Homo sapiens: one gene and its partner. The protein of the gene in region 2 purifies or fractionates together with the protein of the main gene of each other region. This does not show direct contact. Each region holds a gene or a part of one and is shown on either strand. Other genes may lie near its edges.

Region 1 (3,500 bases), on a different chromosome or scaffold from region 2:
TGTATACTTTAAAATGGTTAGTTTTAGTTATGTGAATTTTACCTCAATTTAAAAAACTGTAAATATGGCACTCTAGTTAAAGATATATATAGGCAGGGCGCAGTGGCTCATGCCTGTAATCCCACCACTTTGGGAGGCCGAGACGGGTGGATCACCTGAGGTCAGGAGTTTGAACCAGCCTGGCCAACGTGGTGAAACGCCATCTCTACTAAAAATACAAAAATTAGCTGGGCATGGTGGCAGACGCCTGTAATCCCAGCTACTCAGGAGGCTGAGGCAGGAGAATCGCTTGAACCCCGGAGGCAGAGGTTGCAGTGAGCTGAGACTGCGCCACTGCACTCCAGCCTGGGCGACAAGAGTGAAATTCCATCTCAAAAAAAAAAAGATATGTATGTTAAAATACTTACGGGGAGGCCAGGTACAGTGGCTCACACCTGTAATCCCAGCACTTTGGGAGCCGGAGGCAGGTGGATCACGTGAGGTGAGGACTTCCAGACTAGCCTGGCCAACATGGCAAAACTACATCTCTACTAAAAACACAAAAATTAGCCGGACATGGTGGCGCATGCCTGTAGTCCCAGCCACTCAGGTGGCTAAGACAGGAGAATCTCTTGAACCTGGAAGGTGGAGGCTGCAATGAGCTGAGATCATGCCACACTGCACTGCAGCCGGGGCGACAGAGCAAGACTCTCAAAACAAAAACAAAAACACAACACGAACAAACAAGAAAACCCACCACATCTTTGAGTGGTGTTAACAGTAAAAAAATAAGGAAAAATAAAAACCACAGGGATGCAAATCAGCAAAACAGACTGTGGGAAACTCATAAGGCAAATGAGTTTTTTTGTTGTTTTTTGAGACGGAGTCTCACACTGTTGCCCAGGCTAGAGTTCAGTGGCACGATCTCAGCTCACTGCAACCTCCGCCTCCTGGTTCAAGCGATTCTTCTTTCTCAGCCTCCCAAGTAGCTGGGACTACAGGCACGTGCCACCATGCCTTGCTAATTTTTGTATTTTTAGTAGAGACAGGGTTTCACTATGTTGGTCAGGCTGGTCTCGAACTCCTGACCTCAGGTGATCTACCATCCTCGTCCTCCCAAAGTGCTGGGATTATAGGTGTGAGCCACTGCGCCTGGCCAACAAATGAGTTTTTTCAACAGAAAATTGCAAAGAAAAAAAAAGGAACTATAGATTATAAAATGTTTAAGACGCATATCAATCAGTAGCAACGTCAAGAATTGTATTTGGATCCAGATTCAAACAAACTATTTAAAAAAGACAGCAAGGGCAATGTGCACACTAGGTATTTAATGATATTAAAGAATTACTATGCCAGGCGCAGTGGCTCACGCCTGTAACCCCAGCACTTCGAGAGACCAAGGCAGGCGGATCACTTGAGGTCATGATTTCGAAACCAGCCTGGCCAACATGGCAAAACCCAGTCTCTACTAAAAATACAAAAAATTAGCCAGGTGTGGTGGTGGGCGCCTGTAATCCCAGCTACTCAGGAGGCTGAGGCAGGAGGAATCACTTGAACCAGGGAGGTGGAGGTTGCAGCGTGCTGAGATCACACCATTGCACTGCAGACTAGGCAACAAGAGTGAAATTCCATCTCAAAAAAAATTACTGTTTTTCTTCTACTGATAATGACTGTGGTTTTAAAGAGCCCTTAGTTATCATTTTGGAAATACATACAATTACTTGAAGATAAAATGATGACTGGGATTGTTTCAAATGCAGGGGTGAAGAAAAGATCATTGTTAAAGACTGGTAATAGGTAATGGGTATATCATGTTCTTTATACTATTCAATCTTTCTATTCAATTTACTATTCAATTTTATATGTTTGAAAATGTTCTTATCAACTGTTTTTTACTATACATTTTACATTCTTACTGCAAAACTTTCAACCATTACAAAATAAAAAAGCTTCTTTTTTCTTATTCTTTTTTTTTTTTTTTTGAGACAGAGTCTCAATCTGTTGTCCAGGCTGGAGTGCAGTGGCGCAATCTCAGCTCACCGCAACTATCACCTCCTGGGTTCAAGCAATTCTCCTGCCTCAGCCTGCCGAGTAGTTGGGACTACAGGCGTGCGCAACTATGCCCAGCCAATTTTTGTATTTTTAGTAGAGAAAGGGTTTCATTATGTTGGCCAGGCTGGTCTCGAACTCCTGACCTCGTGATTCACCCGCCTCGGCCTCCCAGAGTGCTGGGATTACAGGCATGAGCTACCACGCCCGGCCCACAAAGCTTCTTTTTACCATCCAGCATGCCCCTTCCCAGAAGTAATCATTATCTGATGTTTATTCTTTCAACCTGTGTTTGTATATTTACATAAATGCCTAAGGAATCCATTTAGCACTATTTATTTTTTAAAATAGTGTAATTTTTGTATACATCATTGTATAATTTGGTTTTTATCACTGATTGTTTTTAACCACTGCATTACATTCTGCAGATACTACTATTCACTTAGTCACCTAGTCTTTCCTACATACACATATATATGCATCTATTAAATAGAAAGATGACATGTTACCTAGTTGCCTGTCATAAATACGGTAAATATTACCTTTAGTTCTTTTTTCTTTTTTTTTTTTTTGAGATGTTGTCTCACTCTGTCTCCAGACTGGAGTGCAGTGGCACGATCTTGGCTCACTGCAACCTCCGCCTCCCGGGTTCAAGCAATTCTCCTGCCTTAGCCTCCTAAGTAGCTGGGATTACAGGTGCGGGTCACCACACCCAGCTAGTTTTTGTATTTTTAATAGAGACGAGGTATCGCCATGTTGGCCAGGATGGTCTCGATCTCCTGACCTCGTGATCTGCCCGCCTCAGCCTCCCAAAGTGTTCAGAATACAGGCGTGAGCCACCGCACCCAGCCTTTTTTTTCTTTTATTTTTTTTTGAGACAGAGTCTCGCTCTGTCACCCAAGCTGGAGTGCAGTGGCGCGATCTTGGCTCACTGCAAGCTTCACCTCCCGGATTCACGCCATTCTCCTGCCTCAGCCTCCCGAGTAGCTGGAACTACAGGCGCCCGCCACCATGACCGGCTAATTTTTTGTATTTTTAGTAAAAATGGAGTTTCACCGTGTTAGCCAGGATGGTCTCGATCTCCTGACCTCATTATCCGCCTGCCTCAGCCTCCCAAAATGCTGGGATTACAGGCGTAAGCCACCACGCCCGGCCCTAATTCTTTTTTTAAACATACCATTGGTTTAACTTTCATGGAGTCAAAATTATAAACCTTTTCCTTTATGGATTCTTCTTCTGACTTCTGTGGTTTTTTTTTTTTTTTTTGAGACAGGGTCTCCCTCTGTCACCCAGGCTGGAGTACGGTGGCGCAATCTCAGCTTACTGCAACCTCCACCTCCTGGGTTCAAGTGATTCTCATGCCTCAGCCTCCCAAATAGCTGGGACTACAGGGGCCCGCCACCAGGCCGGCTAATTTTTCTATTTTTAGTAGAGACAGAGTTTCACCATATTGGCCAGGCTGGTCTCACACT
Region 2 (5,990 bases):
CTCCAGCCTGGGCGACAGAGCAAGACTCGGTCTCAAAACAAAAAAAGGGGAGACCAAATTGGCTAGTTAAATAAATGTATGTAGGTGTTATATCACACCCCTGAATAATTCCTCCGAATCGGGGTGGGGGTGTCAGTCATCTGTACTCCACCCAGAAGTCAATGCCACATTCCTGAGTCTACATACCCGTGAAATGATAGGAACCCATGTGCCCATAAGGTCCTGGAGGGGAATGCAAAGTTGGTCAAGACATGGGAGCTAGACAGCAAGGAAAAGGAATTGCAAAGGGAAGTTAGTAGTTAAATAAGTTACCACATATCCATGTAATATAATACTAAGATAGACAAATGCAAAGTTGTAGAAAATAGTTAAGGAATATTTTCAAGATACTGTATCAGAGAAATCACTTTACAAAACAGGTTGAACAATACAATTATATCAATATGGTCATTTAAAAAGTCTAGAAAGTTAAACACCTGTTTCAGTTATTTATTGCTATATAACCACCTCAAAAGTTTATGGCTTAAAACAAAAAACAATTAGCTTATTATTTGGGGGGCTTGGCAATTTGGGCTTGGCTTGCCTGAGTGGTTCTTCTGCTGATCATATTCATGTGACAGCTGTCAGCTGTTGGCCTGGTGGAGGCTGGATGGTTCAAGATGGTCTCCCTGAAATTTCTGGCCGTTGTTGCTCACTGGACCTCTCTCTCCAAGTGATCTTTAATGCGCAAGCAAGTTGCTCTTAGCCTTCAGTCATGGTGGTCTCAGGGCAGGAAAAGGGGAAGAGAAAAAGCTGCAAGACTTCCTGAAGCTTTGTCTCAGAAGTCTCACAATATCACTTCCACCACATTCTATTGGTCAAAGCACCTCACAAGGCCCTGCCTAATAGTAACCTAACCACTGACTAGCATTTCAGGAGGAGAAAAAATACTCCCTTGCTGAAAAACAAAATCAAAGAGAACAAAAATAGAAAATACAACAAAACTTCCTTGACCTTGGTTTTCAGATATGCTCAGCAATGGTTCCCTTTCCTCAGGGCTCTTAGAGAACCTCAAGGCAAGGGAGAAGGGGTAAGGAATCATGAGACATCAGACCTTTCTTGGAACCCAGATTGGCTAAATTGGAAAAAATTATTGCCACCACACGAGCTCTCATCATCTACCATAAACATACTCAGATGGAAGTAAAAGGGAGATGGGAGTACTGCTAACCCTTCTTAGTATTCAAGGGAAAGGCCAGGGTCACTGATATCCAGGACTGGGGACTTTCTCAAAATTCACGTTAAGTCTCCTGCGGAGACAGCTCTGGGAATGATGTGGATCACATGGAACCTGACCTCTGAGAGTTCCCAAGGGAGAGCCTCTGAGGAAGGAATCCTACTCCTAGGTTCTCCCCACGACGTCTTCCCAGAACTCTGCTTAAGGGACACTTACAACTCGAAAAGCCTCGTTCCGAAAACAGGTCTGTCCTTTTTCTGTTTGCAGATTTTATTCCACCACTCGATTATCCCTTCCCTTTTTGATGGCCATTTCACTGCAGCTGGGGTCTATACAGCTATAAAGCGGGAGAAAAAAGGAAGCTGGGAACTCAGAGATGCAGAGCCCAAGAAACAATCGAGTCTAAAACTGCCGCTTAGGTGGGCACTCCGCCAGGATCCCCTGTGTCAAACACCAGGCTGAGAACTGGGGACAGGTGTGCCCTGAGAAGACAACGCGGGCCATGCTTCATTGCAAGATGACTCTGCTTAACATAGGCATGGATCATAGTCCTCACAGGCACATTGGGGAGATCTTCGACAGACCCCTCAGTCCCAACATTAAACACAGCACTGCAGAAATGAAGCTTTACCCGTTACACACACAACACCACAGACCTAAAAGGCTCTTCCATCACACGGCCACAGCAGCACTGTCATGATGGAAGGTCTCAAACCCTACAGTGTCACACACCCGACAGCCGACCACGGCCACCCAAAGGTCCCGCATCCGAGCAGGGACAGGAACACAATCACGCACCTGTCGCAGCCTCCTCGCCGCGCACACCGCCGCCTTGTCCTGGCATCAAACACACACGCACAGGTGCATACACAGGCCCGAGCTACGGCCCTGCACACCCTGTCTGCGTCCCGGGAGCTCGGGGCTTCCTCACCGTGAGCGCCGCCCTCATCCCAGCCACGCACTATGAGAATTTGGAAGGGGAACCAGAGATCAAAGTTCGAAAACCGCCCGGGCGCCTGTGGGAAATGTAGTCCAAGGCCGGAAACGCCCGGATGTGGAGAAGGCGCGCGTAGCCGGTGGACAGCAGGAACGCGCCGCGGAGACACCTGGGAGGCATCGTCCGCGTGGGAGTGCGCATGCGCAGACGCCCGGCCGGCAACCGAAGGTGAGGCTGGTGGGTCCCGCGGGCGCGGAGAAGGCGGGTGACGGTGTGACCCGTAAGGAAGGCTGAGGAGGGAGGCGGGAGCCTGGGCTGGGGAAAGCAAGAAGGGAAGAGGAGCAACCTGGGACGAGGAGTTGGCTGGAGGAAAGTGCGAGTCCGGGCCTCAGAGAAGGCTGGGAGGGAAGCAGGAACCAGAGCGCGGGCCCGGGAGCACCTGAAGAAGGGAACCGGTTGCCCGAGGCGGGGGGTGAGCTCCCCAGTGGCAGGAATTTCGTCTGATTTTCGTCCCCTGGCTCCTGGAGCACGGCCTGGCACACAACAGGCGCTCCGTGTGTGTGTGTGTGGCTTTTCGTACCTGTCCTGTGTGTTGTGGTAGGGGAATGTGTTATTCTGTGTGACGTTGTGGAACCGGTTGTTTATGAAAGTGATAGGGTCCCTGCGTGTCTTAAGTTTTAATTTAAATTAGATGCGAGTCGATTTGTGTTTGAGCCTGTGTCCGACTCTGGAGAGGCGACAGTGAGGGCATTGTGAGTGAAAGGTTGTTACTTTTTGTAGAAGTTCTGTGAAATTGTGCACGACGTGGGGGCCTATGGGATTATGACTATGTAGTGGGTGATACAGCTATGAATATGCCTAATTTTAAAAGTATTTGGTGTACACGACCTATGATGACTGTGAATGTGGCACACTGTGTGACTTAGGTGGAGTGCTTGAGAAACCGAGTGTTGACTAAAGTATGCATTGTTTAGATTGATTTATGAGTATTGGGCATTTTATATATGCCTGTAGAATTTGACTCTGGTAATTAGACAAGTAAAATAAGTAGTGATTTTTTTTTTTTAATGGAGAGGAAGAGGCAAAATAATTTTCAGAGGGTAAGATTGGGCCCATGCGGGCCGGGCGCGGTGGCTCACGCCTGTAATCCCAGCACTTTGGAAGGCTGAGGCGGGCCGATCACGACGTCAGGAGATCGAGAACATCCTGGTTAACATGGTGAAACCCCGTCTCTACTAAAAATACAAAAAATTAACCGGGCGTGGTGGCGGGCGCCTGTAGTCCCAGCTACTTGGGAGGCTGAGTCAGGAGAATGGCGTGAACCCGGGAGGCGGAGCTTGCAGTGAGCCGAGATCGTGCCACTGCAATCCAGCCTGGGTGGCAGAGCAAGACTCCGTCTCAAAAAAAAAAAAAAGATTGGGCCCATGCGCGGTGGCTCACGCCTGCAATCCCAGCACTTTGGGAGGCTGGGGCGGACAGATCACCTGAGGTCAGGAGTTTGACCAGCATGGTGAAACCCCGTCTCTACTAAAAAATATAAAAATTAGCTGGGCATGATGGCGCATGCCTGTAGCCCCAGCTACTCGGGAGCTGAGGCAGGGGAATCGCTTGAACTCGGAGGTGGAAGTTGCAGTGAGCCAAGATCGCGCCACTGCACTCCAGCCTGGGCGACAGAACGAGACTCCGTCCCTTCCCTTCCAAAAAAGATCATTTATTGGGAAACCTGGTATTGACTGATGACTGATATGCTTAAATGAATAGAATACCACTGGGACCACACAGAAAAAAACTTTATCTCATAACTGCCACTCTCAAAATTCCTATTTGAGAGTGTGTGTGTGTGTGTGTGTGTGTGTGTGTGTGTGTGTATTTATTTTTTTTTTTGCTGGATGAATTTCTTCTGCTGGAAGCCTGAAATGTGAAAGGATACATGATTAGTTTCTTCTCTAATTCCCCAACCTTTATTTTGTCTCCTCTTTACTCCCTATAGGCAGTCTTTAGCTCTCATGGATTGGGAGCTGGGAAAGGAATGAGAAGACAGAAGTCAGAGACAAGAAGAGGCTAACATGACTGATACCACTATAATTTAGTGTAAGTCATCTCTTACCTTCCAAGAGAACCTGCTGCTTGGAACCTCCAGATACACTTCCCTTCTCATGGGCATAGCCTCTTCTCCAGCTGCTGCCCCAGTGCTTCCTCTGGGCATTCAGTGGCCCACCGACTCTGGTGGGTGGGTTTGTCCAGTCATTCCTCTTTGATAGGACCCAAGACAACCCAGACAGCCTCCACCCATGGGGTCTTCACCTAGTGCTAAGGTGAGAATTAGCCACCTCAGTCACTTTGCCCTCCCAAATCTTAGAAATATGTAAAATTTTTGCCAAGAATTCTCTCACCACTTTGGTTCCTGGTGGCCTCAGGGTCTGAGGGACCCCTTGTGTGTTGTAAAAAAGGGAGAATCACTCACGTTTTTCCCCCTGGAAAAACACTGTTCTAAAAATAACAGTCTCTTAAAAATACATGCTCCTCTCTCAGCCTCTCCACTGTCTTTAAAGGAGGAGTTTAATGATAGCAAAATTTTACACTCAACAGCTCTATAAGATCCTGTTCTTGAATGAAGTTCTCTTAGAATTTTGTTTCATTTGCTATCTTTGGGATATCAGCTGAGGCTGAGGCAGAAATATTTCTAAGTTTTCATCCTATTAAAAATTGAACAGTGATAACAATTAGAAAACTCAGGGTTGTTGGAAAAAACATTAACAAATAAATAGGGGGTGTGTGTGTATGTGGAAAGTATGGGGAAAAAGACTTATTTACAGTGGTCATCAAAAATAAGAGATACAAAGGAAGTGACTTTACTAATTACATGATATGTTATTAAAGAGCACATTTTAAAATAGGACTTTTGGTGGGGCTTGGTGGCTCATACCTGTAATCCCAGCACTTTGGGAGGCTGAGGTGTGTGCACTGCTTGAGTCCAGGAGTTCAAGACCAGCCTGGGCAACTTAGTGAAACCCTGTCTCTACAAAAATACAAAAATTAGCCAGGCGTAGTGGCACGCCCCTGTGGCTAGCTACTCAGGAGACTGAGGTGGGAGGATCACCTGAGCCCAGGGAGGTCGAGGCTGCAGTGAGCCGTGATCACACCACTGCACTCCAGCCTGGGCAACAGAGTGAGACTTTGTTTCAAAACAAAACAAAAGAAACTATAAAACTCTTAGGAAAAAACACATAGGCATACATCTTAATGATCTTAAATTTGGCATGCATTCTTTTGGAGTTTCTTTCATGGTGATTGAAATGTTCTAAAATTAGGTTGTGGATGATTGTTCATTATGATGGTTTGTGAATATACCAACAACCATTGAATCGTATACTTTAGATGGATGAATTTTATGGTGTGTAAATTATATCTCAATGCTGTCATTTAAAAAATCTTGGCTAGGCCACCTCTGCAATGTGTAACACTGAGCAAGCCATGAGTGTCTCCTGTGTTAGTCATGTTAGTCAATTTCAGGTATAATAGGACCTACCTCACTCAGGGTTTTTGTGAGGGTCATTGGATCTACATCACAGGGAATTATTTTGGAAAGTGTAAAGAAATAATTGAATTCCAAATATCCAAGAGAAGGAAACTGGTTGGATTAACCAAGTACAGTGCCACTGAGGAGTATTATGCAGCCATGAAAAGGGATCAGTTGCATGGATTTATGGAGAAGGGCCTCCAGGATACTTTGGATTTTTTTGTTTTCTTGTTTTGTTTGTTTGTTTCTGAGACAAGGTCTCCCTCCGTTGCCCAGGCTGGAGTGCAGTGGCTTGATCATGGCTCACTGCAGCCTCG

What was found. Proteins that work in one complex are often made in the same cells at the same time.
Region 1: the proteins of ZNF567 (region 2) and DDX50 purify together in Homo sapiens (co-immunoprecipitation; one large-scale study listed by IntAct). This does not show direct contact.

What each region holds. Positions count from the first base shown.
Region 1 is NC_000010.11:68,914,815-68,918,314, reverse strand, and holds part of DDX50 (ATP-dependent RNA helicase DDX50), read right to left. Parts: intron 1-3,500. UniProt on the Homo sapiens protein: ATP-dependent RNA helicase that may play a role in various aspects of RNA metabolism including pre-mRNA splicing or ribosomal RNA production.
Region 2 is NC_000019.10:36,685,254-36,691,243, forward strand, and holds the start of ZNF567 (zinc finger protein 567), read left to right. Parts: upstream 1-2,358; 5' UTR 2,359-2,381; exon of another isoform or gene 2,382-2,625; intron 2,626-4,143; 5' UTR 4,144-4,244; exon of another isoform or gene 4,245-4,444; coding exon of another isoform or gene 4,445-4,468; intron 4,469-5,990.